2 separate regions of the Homo sapiens genome follow, and region 2 is linked to region 1. Evidence: fine-mapped expression QTL. A gene starts in region 1. The other region holds a variant in brackets. All regions are shown on one strand. Distances are between the middles of the regions.

Region 1 (8,000 bases):
CAAACTTGAATGCATCATCTTCCCATAAACCTGTCCCTCCTTCTACACTCTTCATCTCAAGAAATAGCACTTTCATCACCCCAGTTGCTCAAGTCAAAAGCATGAGTCATCCTTGACTCCTTCCCCCGCCCCTCCTCCCTTGCTTGAAGCCGGTCTGTATCAAAGCTGGTAAATTCTACCTTCAAAAACTAGCTTTGGAATCCACCAGTTGTCTCCATTCCCATTTCCGTCTCCCGGGCTCAAGTTCTGTCCTTTCACTCACCTACTTGGTTTCCCAGGCTCCAGGCTTGTCCCCTAATCCGTTCTTCACCCAGCAACCAGGGATCTTTTCAAATTGCAAATTAGACTGTGTCACTCGCCTTCCTAAAACCTTTCAGTCACTTAACAATTGCACTCAGCCTCTGTACTTCCATTTACAAGACCCTTCATGAGCTGGCCCTTCACTCACCATGCACCCCTCCTGCTCCTGCCATTCTGAATGACTTTCGATTTCTAGTATCACTCAAGTTCTCTCACCTCTGAGCCTTTGCACGTGTTATTCCTTCTGCCTGGAACACTGTCTCCCTATTTCCCCTTTTACCTTGCTGTCTCCTCATAATCTAGGTCTCAGTTTAGAGATCATCTCTTCTAGAGAAACCTCCCCTAATCCCCCAAGTCTGGGCTTTACACACCCCTCCAAAATATTCCCCCATAGCAGGCTGTGTTTTCCCCATGATGGCACTTAACACATGATAAAACAACTGCCTATTGACTCATCTGTCTCTTCCACTTGACTGAAGGTTCCACGAGGACACTGAATCCCCATGTCTAGCATTGTCCCTGGCATACAGCAGGCATGTGATAAATGGTGATTAAATGAATGAGTCATTTTGCACAGGATTCCTTTTCTCAAGCACTGTTTCACGGAAAAACATCTTATTTTCCAAACAAGCAAATCCCTTGGGGTCAGACAGTTCACCATTTTTTGGCAGCCCAGAAGGGAGCTCAATTGGATGCTAAGTGAGGGCACACCAGCGTCTGACATTGTTCTGAGCAGAAGTATCTATTCCCATTTTGCAGAGAAGCTGTGACTTGCCTGTGATGACGTTGGTGGGAAGTAAGACCAAGACCAGACATGCATATCTGATTCTTGGTCCTGAGACTTGTCCCTTCCCTCCTCTAATAAACACATCATGAAGGTCTCAGGAAAGATTGGATTCTAAAGGAAGGCATCCTGTTTGCTCTCTAAACTGAGACCTCCTATTGGAGGCCTTCCTTTATAACCCTAAACCCTAACCCTGTTGGCAGGTGGGATTCCAGATAGGGTTGACAATGAGCCTTTTGTACCTTGCTGAGGCCATCCTCTTAGACTACAGCCCCGGACCTTGTGAGAGCTCAGCTGCCCTGGGCCCTATCCTCTCCTGGCCCAGGAACCTACCAGCTCGAGTGGCTCCCGTGGCCACGAGTCGCAAGAGGCCTTTCTTCTTGAGGATGACGCTGCTGCCGATGAGGAAGCTAGACAGGAATGCCAGGCCCAGGCCGATGTAGAAGCCATAGTTCTGCCTGATTCTTTCCTGCCAGCTGTGAAAGGTGGCATTGCTGGGCACCTCAGGGCTGAGGTCATTGACAATCTGGCACAGGACTTCTTGGGAGGAGCAGTAGAGGTGGAGCAGGGAACCTGGATGGGAAGACCACAGTGAGAGAGTCACACTGGGGACAATTGCACACTTTTAAAATATTGGAATTGGCCACTGTTTCAAACCCTGTGCTTCCGCTACTGCAGGGCTATACCCATATACCGTGCCTCCACCTAAAAATAATTATGTTCAGTGAGTGCTTACGCTAGTTAGGGGCTTTCTTTGCATGACCACAACAAATTTGTACCACCACGTGCCAGATAACAAACCTGGGCACAAGGGCAGACCCTCAGTCAGAAGAAGTACATAAGTTCAATGAAACTGCAAAGAATAGCCAATAATTCTTCAGTGCTACTACTCACATGGTCCTCTGCTCTGGGGTTTTCCAGGAGGGTTTCTAATGACCACTTGGAAGCAGGCACAACAATCTTTTATAGGCTTTTAGTTGAAGAAACCAAAGCTCTGATAAGTTTAGTAACCTGCCCAAAGCCAAAACATGGGTACTGAATAGTGAAGCCAGTGTCAGATTCTAAGCTTATCTGATGCCAAAGCCCAGGCTCTTAACCATCACACACACCTCAATAAAGCAGGTAGCATCTGGCCTCCTAAGAGGCTTTTTGTTTGTTTTTGTTTTTGTTTTTTTGTGTAGAGATGGGGGTCTTGCTATGTTGCAGAGGGTGGTCTGAACTCCTAGCCTCAAGCTATCCTCCTGCCTCAGCCTCCCAAAGCACTAAGATTACAGACGTGAGCCACCGTGCCTGGCCCTAAGAGGTATTTTAAAATAGAAAACATTTAAAAATTGGGAGATTTTCCATGAAAATTCAGATGGGAGGCTACGGTGAAAAATCAGATCTGCTTACCATATTGGGCCCTCTTCTAAGGCAACAACTGGCTGCAGCTGGGCAGTGTTGCCCCCTAAAATAGGACATACTCTCTGCAGTTCCCCAAGAGTCTTATCTGGCTCCTTTCAGTAATTTCTAGCACGTGCTTGGCCTTTGTAGGCATCTGAGTTTGTTACCTCTGGAGGTAGCCTTTTTCAAGCTGTGTGTCACCAAGGCCCAGGTCCCTATGCCAAGGATGTAAGCCTCAACCAAGTATTTCTCCCACCAACCTAGAACTCCCAGGCAGTGCCTGGAAGGGCCCCAAAGTCCATGGTCAAGCAACTCTGGCTCTGGCACATCTGCAGGGCAGAGTGGCATCTTGGTGGAACAGACTAAAGGCAATGTTGACCTTTCTTCCACGACACAGACCCATGAATAACAGAGCTTGAAGAGCCCTTAGAAAGCAGTCTAAATTCTTATTTTTTCTGGGGAAACTGAGGCCCTGAGAAAGGGAAGAGCTTGCTTAAGTCACCCCAACATCTGGTGAAAGATCTGGATCCAGCACCCACTGGGGCACATCCATGTGTCTTTTGCAGTGTGATATCTCTCTTTCCAAAACTCGTGTCACAATCAAGGGAAGATGAGACAAGAGGCATCTCAGTCCCTAATCAGACTTGTTCTGCACTGCTCATTCCTGTTTCTCCAGCTCAGGCTTCCTTGCCCAAGAGCTGAATCTGGGGAGTTCCCTGAGCCCAGGAAATGAGCCAGAACCTGGGAGAACATGGGCTAGGGGAGGTGACTCCTGAGAGGAAGACCAAACTCATCCCCACGCCCTTCCCCTGCTCCCTGAAGGTGCACCTCTAGCAGATGGAGCCAACGAACCCTCTGTGGATGGACTTGGCTGTCACAGTAAAGCCCGCAACACCCAAGGGCTGAGCATCCTCCATTGAGTCAAGTTCTCCCACTGCAGTGAAAAGTAAAAGACAGAGGGCTGATGGCCAAAGTAATCCAATTCTGAGCATGGGCCAGATGATTCCTGTTATCTCTTCCAGAATATGCTAGGACTGGGGAACACATTCTGGCCTAGAGAAAAGGTGAGGCTGAAAATGCCTGCCTTGTTCAGGAAACCAAAGTCAGACACCTAACAGGCTGGCTTTGAAAGCTTCACTGTAGAAGGGAAGAGGTTAGAGAAACAGGGACATGCCACAGCCTGCAGTTCCAAGACAAGGTAGGAAAGTGGAGCCACACCAAGGAAGGAGTTGAGGTTTTACTGTCCACCAGCCTTGGATCTATATTCCATTTCCTCACTGTATTACCTTGAGCAAATTATTAGCTGCTCAGAGCCTCAGTTTCTGGATCTTTAGAGTGGGGATAGCAAGATAGTAAAATAATAATACCTACCTACCTTCTAGAGTTGTTTTAAGGATTCAGTGAGATAATGCGGGTAAAGGGCCTAGTCCACTACCTGCTTTATGGTCAGAACGCAATAGGAAGTCAGGGGTCTTTCTTTACCCCTTCCTGTGGTTCTTTTTCTTTTCCAAAGACAAGACCGTCCTGTGATGGTCCTCCCATTGACCCAGAGAGAAAGCCCAAACTGCGCAGGTACTAAAACCTGAAGCAACTACACATTAAAAACACAGAATCCTCCCCCCGCCCCCACCACCTCTCAGGGTGTCTGCTGTCGTCAAAATGCCTGCCCCCCACTAACCCCCCATCTCAACCCAGGGGACATACTTTCCTTCCCTGACTCCTCTCAGCCATCCCAGCTGCGAAGATGAAAGTGAAGTCTCAGCCAGAACCCAGATCTTCAAAGCTGGGTGGGAGCCACCTCGTGCTGGCCCTGCCCCTCCCCAGCTTTGGCCCCCCTGGGAGGAGAGGATGCGAGGGAGAGCGGTGGCAAGGAGGGGAGGGCGCGAAGCGCGGAGCCCGCCTGGTCCCCAGCCCTGCCGTACGCACCGTTCTCGCAGCTGGTGTTGCTGACCCGCAGCTCCATGGGGCCCGGGGCACACGAACCGACGCGCGGGCGGACGGCGCCCGGGCTCCCCAGCTCCGGAGCAGGTGGCCGCGACTTGTCCCCCGCGTGGCTCGCGCGCGAGAAGCCGCCGGGGTCCGGACCCAGGGGTGGGGAGAGTGACGCGTCCCAGAGTGGGAGAGTCCCCGGGGAGGAGTCACCCGGCATCTTGGGCAATTCCGGGGGCAGGGGGCCCAGGGCTGGGGCCGCCCGCAGAGGGGCGCATGCCTTCCTGGGGTGAGGACGCTGCCAGGCTCCCAGCTCTGGAGTCACCGCCCCGTGCTAGGGGCAAGAGGTGAGGAGGCGGGTTCCCCGGCACCGCTCCTCCGATGCCTGCACCGGCACCCAGCTCCATCCCCAGGGAAAGAGTACAGGGGACCTAGATGGCTGGAGAAGGGGCAACTTTCCTGCCGAGGTGGAAGTGGCAACATAGGGGTTGGAAGTGGGTACTGCTGCCAATTGGGAACCTGGGTTCCTTCTTTTCCTTCCTTCTCGCCCTCCTACCCTCCCCCTCTCCTTCCTCCCCTCCACCTTTCCTCCCTTCCTTCCATTTCACCCTCCTGCCCTTCCTCCCTGCCTTCTGCCCTGCGACCTCCTTTCCTTGCCTTACCCGTTCATTGATTCAACCCAGGTCTGATCTGTGCTGGTAGGTAACAGGTACATAGTGAGTTAATGCTCAATATATATTTATGTCTAATGAATAGATAATAGGAGCTTGGTAAATTAAATGAAAGAAGGAAATGAAGTGATTGGAGACCAAAATGAGTCAGACTATTCCCTGTCCCCCAAGTACCTTATATTTTAATGGGGGAAACAAAATGTGATCATCTCTTAGAGACCAATGTTTTTGAAATTACCACTTTAAAATTATTTATACACACACACACATACACACGTTGTGATGGAAAGCATATTTGTTACTATGGGTAACAGTAAAAAGCAAGTTAGAAAACCACTGACCTGGAGCATAAAAATAGGTATGTAGAGTTTGCTATAGGCCAGGCAGAGTTCTAAGTGCTGAAAAATTCCAGTTCATTTAATCTTCATGACCGCCTTATAATGTACAGACTTTTATTATTTACCAAAAGGAAACTGAGGCACAAAGTGCTCAAGTAACTTGCTGGGGATCTCAGCTGAGAAGCAGAAAAGCCAGGATCAAACTCGTGCTGTCAGTGGTCACATTAAGCCGCCTGGCATTTTACACTGAAATAAACTGCTCCTGGGCAGTGAGGGTGTGGGGCTACTGAGAAAGCAGTGATTGGTTCTGCCAGTGGTGCTCACCGGCTTCCTGGAGGAGGCAGCTTTTAAGAATTGTTATGTATGGAGTCGTCAGCATGGGCCAGACACTGTGCTAACCCCTTTCCAGGCACTGTCTCATCGAAGCCTCCTAGGAGACAGATATCCTTACTCTTTCCATGCTACAGATAAGAGGAAACTGTTATTTTTAAAAATTTTATCATGAGATAATTTTAGACTTATAGAAGAGTTACGAAAATAGTATAGAGAGTTCCCATATACCTGTCACCAGCTTCCCTTAATGTTAACATCTTGTATAGGAATAGAAAAAACTGTCCTTTAAATACTCTGAGACACTTGCTCCCAAGGTTGCACAGCTAGTGAACGAGGGTGCCAGGTGTAAACCGAGCTGCTCTGACCCCAAGCCTGTCCTCCTACCTACGACCCTCCACTGTCTACTTGCGGACCTCTAGCTGGGCCTCTAAGGATGGGTTCTCCCAGCATGGGGCTTCCTCTAATTTGCTGGATGACTTTAAACAAGTTGCTTACTCTACATAAGGATCAATTTCTTTGTCAAATGCAACAGCCCCTTCTCCAAGGGGTCGGGATCGGGTTGGGGAAGGGAGAGGTTAAAAGAGAAAGGGAAATGTGAGACACAGCAAATGTAACAAGCCACGTTTGCTCATTTTACTTGCTGCATAATTTCACAAGCCCTTGATTCTGTAATGATGTGCACCTCTCTGGAAAAATGCTTTGAAAACAAAGCAGGATACAGCACAAGGCCCCCACAACTTTTGCCTGAGACACTATATTTCTTAAAAGATAAATGACCCTAGACCTTGCCTATTCCTACACATAGGATAATGTTTGACAAGGTTAGTGACTATGCCTCTATCATCTATAACCAGATATACTCTTGCACCCAGACTTTCATGTGATTCTGCTTTACTGTAACTTCTGAGCAAGTTTGATGTAATGTTTGAGCACATACTGCACTTCTGCTACGTGTATATCAGCTATGAGCTAAAACACTGTTTCAGAGCAGTGGGACAGGACCTCTCTGAAAGACTCCTCCCAGACTTTGTCTTCAGTCTCTAGTCCTCAGTAAGACTTCTGCTTTTTTTTTTTTTTTTTTTTTTGAGACAGAGTCTCACTCTGTTGCCCAGGCTGGAGTGCAGTGGCTCGACCTCGGCTCACTGCAAGCTCCGCCTCCCATGTTCAAGCGATTCTCCCACCTCAGCTTCCGGAGTAGCTGGGATTACAGGCGCCCACCACCACGCCCAGCTAATTTTTGTATTTTTAGTAGAGACAGTGTTTCACCATGTTAGCCAGGCTGATCTCAAACTCCTGACTTCAGGTGTTCCACCTGCCCCGGCCTCCCAAAATGCTGGGATTACAGAACCTCAGTAAGACTTCTGAATAAAACTAACTTTAATTCCTTAAAAGCTTGATTTTCTTTTAGTTGACAGAAGTCATAGCCATTGCCAACAGAATATATCCAAGTCTGCAGGTGAGTGTGCCCAGGCCCGCCTCTAACTTTGGAGGTGTGTGGTACCACCGTTCAGGTAGAGGGGAACACCTCCAAGACTATATGAATTTGAACACAGAGCAGCAAGACACTAGATGATTGGCCCTATTCGGAAGTGAGACTTCATGATGAAAAAATATATGCATCCATGCTACCTGCAAGGGAGAATTTGACAAGAGAATTCAACTTATCTTTCTCTTCTCTAAGCATTTCTGCTGTTCAGCTCCTCCTTGTGCTATAAAACGGAGTCAGCACTGAACCTGGAGTGGTACAGTCCTCAAACCCTCACTGCATTCAAACTTGACTGCTTTTATTCCAAGAACATAGGGTGAGAGATTCGGAGTATTTCCCTCTGGTCTGACCTTTTTTCTTCCTCGCTTTATTGAAGTATGACTGACAAATGAAAGTTATATATATTTAAAATGTACAACATAATGATTTGATATAGGTGTACATCGTGAATGATAACGACGATTAAGCTAATTAATACATCTATCACCTCACTTAGTTATATTGTGCGTGTGTGTGCATACATGCGTGTATGTTGAGAACACTTTAAATAGTGGCTTCTCTTAGTGGCCTTTTTGAATCACAAGAGAGGATGTTTCAGATTGTAGTTGCCAGAGCTAAGCCCAGATCCTGAGAGACAGATGCACATATATGTTCTTTAATGCATTTATTTTTGTATGTGTTTGTGATTTGTGGAACCTCTAAATTTTAGGGTCAGGGAAGGGGCCTCCTTGTCAGGGGTTAAGGGCAATATTGAGTTTATCCTATGCTTCAAGACC
Region 2 (10,120 bases), 26 kb before region 1:
GCAGAGCATCCACATTGAATCAGCTTCATTGTCCTGATTTTGTAGAGAGGAAATCAGGATAAAGACAGACCAAGAGAGAGGAGCGACTGCTCATAGTGTGGTGTGGGGACACGGTTCAGTCTCTCTTCTCCCATCCTTTCTACTGAGGAGGGGGAGCCCGCTTAGTAGAGTGAGAGTAAGAGAGACTGTAGGTCATTGAATGTTCCCATTCTTTTTAGGGGACACGGTGACTATTTCTCTTTGGGCACTTAAAAATAATCATGAACCTGGGACACATTATGGTGGTTTAGATTTCCTCTGATGGACACAAGTTAAAATGGAGAACCAGACACTCAGAAAATTTTATAGTATTTTAGTGGATCTCTCAAGGATTCTAGCACTATGATTTCTAAAGTTTTTTTTTTAAAAAAAATAGCAAATAACTTTAAAAAAAAAGCACCAAAATCTTTCAAGGAAGAAACCCCAATATGTAAAACTGATAAAAAGTAGTGTTTTGTTAGTACAAATACGTTCTCTATATTTACATTAACCACTTGAGAGAATATTGGGGTAGTTTTGATGAAACCAAATGTTAAGTTATGGATTATGGGTGAGATGTCTAGTCTTAAATCTGTCTGAGTCTTTTCGTTTCTTTGTTTTTTTTTTTTTTTTGAGACGGAGTCTTGCTCTGTCACCCAGGCTGGAGTGCAGTGGTGTGATCTCGACTTACTGCAACCTCCGCCTCCCGGGTTCAAGTGATTCTCCTGCCTCAGCCTCCTGAGTAGCTGAGACTACAGGCATGTGCCACCACACCTAGCTAATTTTTGTGTTTTTAGTAGAGACGAGGTTTCACCATGTTGGTCAGGATGGTCTTGATCTCTTTACCTTGTGATCTGCTGACCGCGGCCTCCCAAAGTGCTGGGATTACAGGCATGAGCCACTGTGCCCGGCCCATAATGTGTGTTTTTAATTATAATTTGTAAGTTAAAATAAGTAATACAAATTAAATGCAAATCAAATGCCTGAAGAAGAAGCACGAATACCTATTTTGAAATCTGCTGTAGCCGAGACAGCTTCTAAATCTCCCACTTGGGTTCTGTTTCTGGAAGGTGTGGGTCCTGTGGTAGCTGGAGTGTTGGTGGCCATCTTGGTGCTGGCGGTCCTCATGCTGATGTACTACTGCTGCAGACAGAACAACAAACTAGGCCAACTCAAGCCCTCAGCTCTCCCTTCCAAGCTGAGGCAACAGTTCAGGTATGACAGGGTTCAATGGAGGACTCAGGGTCAATTTATGGGTCACAAAGGTCTCCATAAATGGTACTTAGCAAAAGTGTTGGTGATAGTGGGTCTAATTCAGGGAAGACAAGTGCAAGATACATGCTGCCCTCTCCCCTGCTATGACTGTGACAGGCATTACTAGTTGATCTTATTGTAAGTACTCTACTGATTCTGGTCATCACTCCTGAGTTCTTCTCAGCAGAATATCCCCAACCAAATCAAGTTGAAATATAAAATAAAATCTATTTGCCATCCTTTGTCTAGTTGATTTATTCCCCATTTTATTTTATTTATTTTTGAGATGGAGTTTCACTCTTGTTGCCCAGGCTGGAATGCAGTGGTGCAATCTTGGCTCACTGCAGCCTCCGCCTCCTGAGTTCAAGCGATTCTCCTGCCTCAGCGTCCTGAGTAGCTGGGGCTACAGGTGCATGCCACCATACCCAGCTAATTTTTTGTATTTTTAGTAGAGACGGGGTTTCACCATGTTGACCAGGCTGGTCTCGAACTCTTGACCTCAGGTGATCTGCCCGCTTTGGCCTCCCAAAATGCTGGGATTACAAGCATGAGCCACCATGCCCAGCCCCCTCTTTGTCTTTTTAACCACTGTTGCTTTAAAGTTTGTTTCATCTGGTATAAGAATAGCTACTCCTGCTCGCTTTTGGTGTCCCATTTGAAAAGTGATGTATTATTTTGGATATGGAAGATGTACAGTCTCTGAGTCACCTATTAAATAACACTTGTTCTGGAGGGGATTTTAAGTCCCAGGTCTTTCTGGATCTATGCCTGATGGGGATTGGTTGATGGCTCGTGACACCCTTGTGTCTCCTCACAGGGGAAGGGTCTTAAAAGGGTGAAGAGAAGGTGCTGAGAGAGCTCTGCTTTGTATAAGGCCAACTCTGTTTCCTTGAGAGTTCTCCATTGGCCACACGTTTTTCTACTTAGGAAGATGTGGTTCGAGAAGACCAATCCCACTCCCTCCAGAGCAGACTTGGGAAAGATTTAGCTGCTTGCTGGCCGTGCTTGGGTCAAAGGGAACTCAGGCACTGTCCCCTGCTGAACATCGTCCCCTTTCTTTTCCTCCCCCATTTCTTGTTTCTAGTTGTCCCTTCAGGGTTTCTCAGAACAGCGGGACTGGTCATGCCAACCCAACTTTCAAGCTGCAGACGCCCCAGGGCAAGCGAAAGGTAAGAGCTTTGCACCACTGAACTTTGCTACTTTTCCTTTATCCCTCAGGGCCATGCTGTATTTTTCTTTTTGAGATGGAGTCTTGCCCTGTCGCCCAGGCTGGAGTACAGTGGCGCCATCTCAGCTCACTGCAAGCTCCGCCTCCAGGGTTCACGCCATTCTCCTGCCTCAGCCTCCCAATTAGCTGGGACTACAGGTGCCCACCACCATGCCTGGCTAATTTTTGTATTTTTAATAGAGACGGGGTTTCACCGTGTTAGCCAGGATGGTCTCCATCTCCTGACCTCGTGATCCACCCGCCTCGGCCTCCCAAAATGCTGGGATTACAGGCATGAGCCACCATGCCCGGCCGCCATGCTGTGTTTTTCTAAGAGCCTCTGTGGGCCCATGGGATTGGTAATAAAAGCCCTTTTATTGGCTGGAGAGACATGTTATTTGGTTCTGACATCCCCTAATGACTTTAAAGGTTGCATCTGACTTCTGGGATCCTCAGGGGTTTAATAGATTGGTGTGTCTGTTCTCCCTTTGGGCTCTGGTTTATCTCAAAGAGACACACAAGGCCAGCCCTGAGTGATTTCTTGTCTCAGGTGTTCCTTGACTTGTGCGTACAGGTGATCAACACTCCGGAAATCCTGCGGAAGCCCTCCCAGCCTCCTCCCCGGCCCCCTCCAGATTATCTGCGTGGTGGGTCCCCACCTGCACCACTGCCAGCTCACCTGAGCAGGGCTGCTAGGAACTCCCCAGGGCCCGGGTCTCAAATAGAGAGGACGGAGTCGTCCAGGAGGCCTCCTCCAAGCCGGCCAATTCCCCCCGCACCAAATTGCATCGTTTCCCAGGTAAGTGGATAATCAGCAACCTTGGGCTGGGAACATTGCTTTTAAGGCCACTTTCAATGGGTAATGGCAAAGGTGGGGAAGGTGAAACTTGTGGGGTCATGAGCTGACTGCCTTTTCTGCAATTCAGTCAATACGGGGGCGCACAGCAGGTTAGAGCAACGAACGTGGGGAAATAGACTCTCTAAGAAGCTCCTAAACCATGTGGCATTTTCTCCCGGGTTGGCCTATTTTATGACAAGCCACTACCCACCTTCCACCCCATATTAACTTCTGTCAGTTCCCCCATGCTCGTCTGCCTGCTAGGTCTTTGTAAATGCTGCTTGTTCTGCCTGATACGCTCCTTCTCTCCTTGGTGGGGCCACCTCCTGCTCATCCTCAGATCTGCTCCTAGATGCCGCTTCTCCCAGGAAGTCTATCCTGATTCCTCAATTCTGAGGTTGATGGGACTGTACTTCTCTCATCATAGTACTCTTCCTACCAAATTGTACCTATTGGTACCTTCTACTGATTGGAAAGTCTTAGGGATGTATCCTGATGCCTTGCCCATCCCAAGGGGCAGGTGCCTCTGGGAGGTGAGAGTGGGGTCTAGACTCTCCCCCACCAGCCCTGGTGCTCTTGGAGGCATAGCCTGCCCAGCAGCCTGTTCCCACTGCGTGTGTGTGCTCTGATGGCTCTGACCACACCTTCTGCAGGAGATCCCCCAGTGCAGACACAGGTGTTTCCTGGGTGGCGGCC[G/A]GGTGGGGTGCCTTCTGGAACTGGCCTGTGTGTTTTGGGTGTGACCCCTCAACTGAGACTGCTTTCTCTGGGTGTAATCCAGAGGGCTCCATGGAACCCAAGCTGTCTCTGACCCTAAGGACTCTGGGGTTGGCTGCAGGCTTTGGAGGGTCCTTGGGATGTGTGGCAGTGGTACAGTTTGGGAAGGCTGAGGGCATCCATTCTGTTTCTCTGCTGTGAAACTGCTGCTCTCCCCTTCCTTTTATGTGGGGCAGAGGTAGGATGGAAAAATCCATGCAGAAAGAGAGGAAAGATTGACAGGGAGAGAGAAGGAAAGAGGAAAGGAAAAAAGCAAGAGAGGGGAGGAGTGGAGAGAGAGAGGTGGAGAGTGTACTCGTGTGCTGAGGGTGCTATAGCAGAGTACTGCACACTGGGTGGCTTCAAAACAGACACTTATTTTCTCACAGTTCTAGAGGCTAAGAGTCCAAGGTCAAGGTGCTGGAAGGGTTGATTTCTGAAGCCTCTCTCTGTGGCTTGCAGGTGGCCGCCCTCTTGCTGTGTTCTCACGAGGCCTTTCCTATGCACTTCTGCCTCCCTGGTGTCTGCCTGTCCAACTCTCCTCTTCTTATGAGGACACCAGATTGGATTAGGTGGCCTCATTCTATCCTAATCACCTCTTTAAAGACCTTATCTCTAAATATGGTCACATTCTGAGGTACTCAGGGTTAGGGCTTCAGCATATGATTTTTTTTTTTTAAATGATGAGTGCACAGTTCAGTCCCTAACAGAGAGATGAAAGAAAGGGAGAAAGCAGGCGTGTAGAGACTTGGGGTTACAGGAGAACAGGAGTGCCAGCAGAGGGAGGAGGGAGTGGGTCGGGCGAGCAGTCCACTCAGACTGTTGTTCTGAAAAACCCACACTAGAGGCATGTTCAGAGAACACGGGGCCAGCCTCACCCCTGTCACCCCTAGGTGCTGAGCCGTAGGTCAGGAAGTGTCAGGGACAGCGGGGACCCAGCTGTCTGTTAAGTGGTGGAGGCTGTGCATACCCTGCACCTGCACCCCTGGGACTGCTGGCAGGAGTCCCGGGTGCAGGAAGCTGCCCAGCCAGTGGCAGGCACCCCAAAACACAGCCCCCAAGCACAGCTTCTCCTGGGCCCCGGGTCCCAGGTGGGTGTCTCTCTACAAGCGAACAGTGGGAGGCAGCTGCTCTGAGTGGGGGCTGCTGTGATGACATTGGGCTGCCACCTGCCTCCTCACAGCCATTCCAAGAAGGGAGTTGCTGCAGCCCTCATTTCTCTTGGAGGTTGCCAGGCCTCATAGGATTGAAGGGACTTGCCCGACATTGCACAGTTGTGAGTGGAGGAGCTAGGACTTGAACCCAGGTCTCATCCAGCTGAGTGAGACAGCCTCCTGCCCTGGGGCCACTCACAGTCTCCAGTCTGCCATCAAAGATTCCCCACCTCCTAGCTGGGGGACATGGACCCCCTGGAGAAGTGATAGATGAAACCTCATCACTTCTTCAGTTCTGCTATTCTAAACCGGCTTATGCACCTGCACTCTGGGCCAGGCAATGACGAGGAAGGCAGATGGCAGCTTTGCCTCCAGGAGCTCACATTCTGCTGGGGCAGTGACTCTGGGATATGTGTCACTGCAACAGTGATATGTGCTGTGAAGGAGAGGCTCAGGGTGCTCAGAAGAGAGTAACGAGGATTTGACCTAATCTGGGAAATCCAGGAAGGTTTCCCTGAGGTGGTGACATTTGAGCTGAGACATGAAGGAGGAACAGGACTTAACCAGGCTGTGAGGGCAAGTGATGAAGGAGCTTTCCTGGTCCCAGGACCCACTAGTAGGGAGGCTCTGTCATGGGAGAGGGCCCTGTGGATTGAAGGAACTTAAAGGTTTGTGTGCTTGGGTCCCAAGGAGCTATGAGATGAGGCTGGAAAGCCAGGAGGAGCCCGTCTATGCCCAGGCCACATAGCCTTGGTCAGGACTTTGGTCTGTATTCCATAGGAAGAGGACAGTGGTGACATGATGCAATTTTCTGTTGACAAGGATTGATCACTCTTTGGGATATCTTTAGGCAGGAGAGAGGTGTAGTTCCTGCAAGGGGCCCATAGATGCTTCTGAAGCTGTTAATCTACTGTTTGACCTGCATGGGGATTACTTAGTGTATTCACGTTGTGATAATTCATCTAGTTGTATATTTATGATTTGTTCGCCTTTTTCTGTGTGTATTATATTTGAATTTTTAAAATAGTTTTAAAAAATGAAAGTCACTCTAGAAGCAAATGGGTGTCCTAGTTAGAAGATTTAAAGGTTGTCCTGAAGAAAGATGGTAAAAGCTTGGAGCAGGGAGTAGGCAGGGCTGATGAAGTGAAGCTGATGAGAAATGTGCAGAAGAGAAAATAGATAACGAGTTGAAGATCCATTGCTTGGCAGGGGATGACGCCCCGTGTCAGGCTTGTGCAATCTGATTGAGTAAGATGCCATCCCTTGTGGAAGGGAGCATGGGCCAGAGTAGCTGAGGGACTGTTTCTGCTCTAGAAAAAGGAAAACAGTGCTGGGCGAGGGCCCTGGTAGGGCTGAGTTGGATCATCGCAGATGTGGCCTGTGGCTGGTTGCCCTGGGAGGCCCAGTGCTGACATGCTGATGAGGCTCCTGCCCAAACTCCAGCCCCTCAGTGGCTCATTTGCACAGCTCCCTTGGGAGCACAGCCTTTCCCAGTTGCAACCTGACATCTGCACCCAGCTGTCACCTGCCCCAGAAGGTCTCTATCCTGGCTTCCAGCAACCATTGCAACTTGGCAGCTATTCTGAGCTGGGGAAGGTGGTGGTGAAGGGGGCGGGTTGTATTGTCCTTCTAGATAGAGCTGAAGAACATGGCTTTTTGGCCTTAAGAATTTGCTTTAGTTTCTGATTCCATGAAGCTTCTTGGGGAAAATCTCGGCTCTTTGTGTTATTCCTGCCCTCTCTATGTGCTTGCCTTTTGTCCACTTTAATACGTGGTAGTGACCCTCTCGAGAAGGGAAGGAAGTCAAGGGGAGCAGGCACTGGAACTCCCTTCTATGCAGTTGGCTTCCCCTTAAACCCCAACAGCTTGGGGGCCTGCGGGTGGGACAGTCATTCTTTGCCCCTTAAAAAACAATGGATCAACTAATACGTGTTGAGCACCTACTGTATACTAGGCACTGTTCTGGAAGCCAAAGATGTATCAGTGAACCAAACAGATACGGACCCCACACTGCTTCCACTCTAGAGGGGAATGGAGAGACACAAAGTAAAAATCAACTGGATAAGTAAATAAATTATATATGTTGTAAGGCAGTAAGTGATATGAAAAGAAAAGAAGAGGTATATTAGGATAAAAAGGTCAGGGAATGTCAGGGTGGGGGCTGTTGTAATTTTAAATAAGGTAGTCAGGGCAAAGCCTTGTGGAGATGGTGAGAACATGAAGGTAATAGTAACACAGGAAGGACAGAATCCATGAAATGTGCCACACACATGGACAACCAACATGAACAAAATATAGCTGCTGCTTTGTTTAAATTTTGTTTTAATCTTAACAGGCAATACACGTACATGCTCTTGTTAAAAAAAAAAAAAAAGGAATGTTCAAGGGCTGGGCGTGGTGGCTCACACGTGTAATCCCAGCACTTTGGGAGGCCAAGGCAGGCAGATCACCTGAGGTCAGAGTTCGAGATTGGCCTGACCAACATGGCGAAACCCCGTCTCTACTAAAAATACAAAAATTAGCTGGGCATGGTGGTGGGTGCCTGTAATCCCAACTACTCAGGAGGCTGAGGCAAGAGAATCGTTTGAACTCCGGAGGCAGAGGTTGCAGTAAGCCGAGATCATGCCATTACACTCCAGCCTGGGGGACAGAGCAAGACTCCATCTCAAAAAAAAAAAAAATGGAATGTTCACCTGGAACACACCCCTCCCCTTTTGCACCCCATCCCAGTGTAATCTCTTTGGTCTGTATCCTTCCTTTTTTCTGTTACAGACATTTCTATTAGGCGGTGAGCGTGCTGACTTATTTTATGTCAACTATCCTCTACAGCTTGTTTGTTCCACCTAACAACTCTTGAACATCTCCCCACGCCAGCCCCTATCAACCTACTTCATTCTTTTTAAGTGCTATATCATCTGTCACTTTATAATTTTAGTTATTTTTCTGCTGATGAAATTTTGCTTATTTATAGTTTCTTTGCTGTTACAAACAGTGCTGCAAGGAACAACCTTGCAGTTTCATTTTTGTGCACGTGTGCAAATAGTTCTCTAACATAGGTCAGAAGAAGTAGAATTACTAGATCAGAGAACAGTTATTTGTAATTTTTTTTATTATACTTTAAGTTCTGGGGTACATGTGCAGAATGTGCAGATTTGTTACATAGGTATACACATGCCATGGTGGTTTACTGCACCCATCAACCCGTCATCTACATTAGGCATTTCTCCTAATGCTATCCCTCCCCTAGCCCCCCACCACCCAACAGGCCCCAGTATGTAATGTTCCCCTCCCTGTGTCCATGTGTTCTCATTTCATGTTCATCTCCCACTTATGAGTGAGAACATGTGGTGTTTGGTTTTCTGTTCTTGTGTTATTTTGCTGAGAATGATAGTTTCCAGCGTCATCCATGTCCCTGCAAAGGACATGAACTCATCCTTTTTTATGGCTGCATAGTATTCCATGGTGTATATGTGCCACATTTTCTTGATTCAGTCTATCATTGATGGGCATTTGGGTTGGTTCCAAGTCTTTGCTGTTGTGAATAGTGCCACAATAAACATACGTGTACATGTGTCTTTATAGTAGAATGATTTATAATCCTTTGGGTATATATCCAGTAGTGGGATTGCTGGGTCAAATGGTATTTCTAGTTCTAGATCCTCCCTATTTAATAATGGTGCTGGGAAAACTGTCTAGCCATATGCAGAAAGCTGAAACTGGATCCCTTCCTTACACCTTATACAAAAATTAACTCAAGATGGATTAAAGACTTAAACTAAGACCTAAAACCATAAAAACCCTAGAAGAAAACCTAGGCAATACCATTCAGGACATAGGCATGGGCAAAGACTTCATGACTAAAACACCAAAAGCAATGGCAACAAAAGCCAAAATTGACAAATGGGATCTGATTGAACTAAAGAGCTTCTGCACAGCAAAAGAAACTATCATCAGAGTGAACAGGCAACCTACAGAATGGGAGAAGATTTTTGCAATCTATCCATCTGACAGAGGGCTAATATCCCCAATCTACAAAGAACTTAAACAGATTTACAAGAAAAAATCAAACAACCCTATCAAAAAGTGGGTGAAAGATATGAACAGACACTTCTCAAAAGAAGACATTTATGCAGCCAACAAACATATGAAAAAAAGATCATCTTCACTGGTTATTTGTAATTTTAATAGATACTGCCAGCTTGCTCTCCTGACTTCCTCTTGAGAATATAAACACATTATACATACAGTTTCTTTCTAAATGGGACCATACAGTATATAACTTTTATCTATCTGATTTTAACCTGTAAGATATCAGGGATATTTTCTTTCAAACAGGCCTCTGGCCTTCAAGTGAGGCTTATTGCTTTCTCTCCAGGACTTCTCCAGGCCTCGGCCGCCCCAGAAGGCACTCCCGGCAAACCCAGTGCCAGGCCGCAGGAGCCTCCCCAGGCCAGGAGGTGCATCCCCACTGCGGCCCCCTGGTGCTGGCCCTCAGCAGTCCCGGCCTCTGGCAGCACTTGCCCCAAAGGTGAGTCCACGGGAAGCCCTCAAGGTGAAAGCTGGTACCAGAGGGCTCCAGGGGGGCAGGTGTAGAGTTGAGAAAACAAAGCAATTCATGCTTCTTGTGGTCTGGACTGAACTTCCAGAACAAAAGCCAAGGGCAAAACATTCATGTTTCTTGGTGCCCGCTTGACTGTGGAGTTTTGGCTTCATGTGAAAGGTGATTCTTAGAATCCTGAGCTGTGGTGGCTTCAGTCCTGCCCCTGCACCTGACCTGGGGAGGGACCCTGAGCAAGTCCCTCTTGAGTCTGTTTCCTCATTTGTACAGAGGCTATGATGAGCAGTAGTACCAGCCCCATCAGGTTGTTGTGAAGAGCAAGGAAGTGCATTAGTAGA

What was found. PIP is the estimated chance that this variant, and not a neighbour inherited with it, causes the effect. A credible set is the group of variants that fine-mapping cannot tell apart.
Region 2: its variant is the best candidate, but not a certain one, in a credible set for the expression of NIPAL4 in whole blood (TOPMed, PIP 0.89).

Annotation. Positions count from the first base shown.
Region 1 is chr5:157,456,751-157,464,750 of GRCh38, reverse strand. It overlaps NIPAL4 (NIPA like domain containing 4), which reads right to left and starts at 4,538. Exons shown (of 6, transcript NM_001099287.2): 1 at 4,394-4,538; 2 at 1,418-1,657. The coding sequence starts at 4,430. It overlaps NIPAL4-DT (NIPAL4 divergent transcript), which reads left to right and starts at 4,651. Exons shown (of 3, transcript NR_136205.1): 1 at 4,651-4,743. RefSeq lists a silencer at 4,485-4,644.
Region 2 is chr5:157,481,423-157,491,542 of GRCh38, reverse strand. ADAM19 (ADAM metallopeptidase domain 19) reads left to right here. Exons shown (of 23, transcript NM_033274.5): 19 at 1,089-1,233; 20 at 2,357-2,441; 21 at 3,054-3,278; 22 at 9,600-9,752. Among named protein-coding and RNA genes, the nearest start is that of NIPAL4, 26 kb to the right of the region's middle. RefSeq lists a silencer at 4,825-4,914 and an enhancer at 4,582-5,082. The variant G/A (reference allele first, on the strand shown) is at 4,014.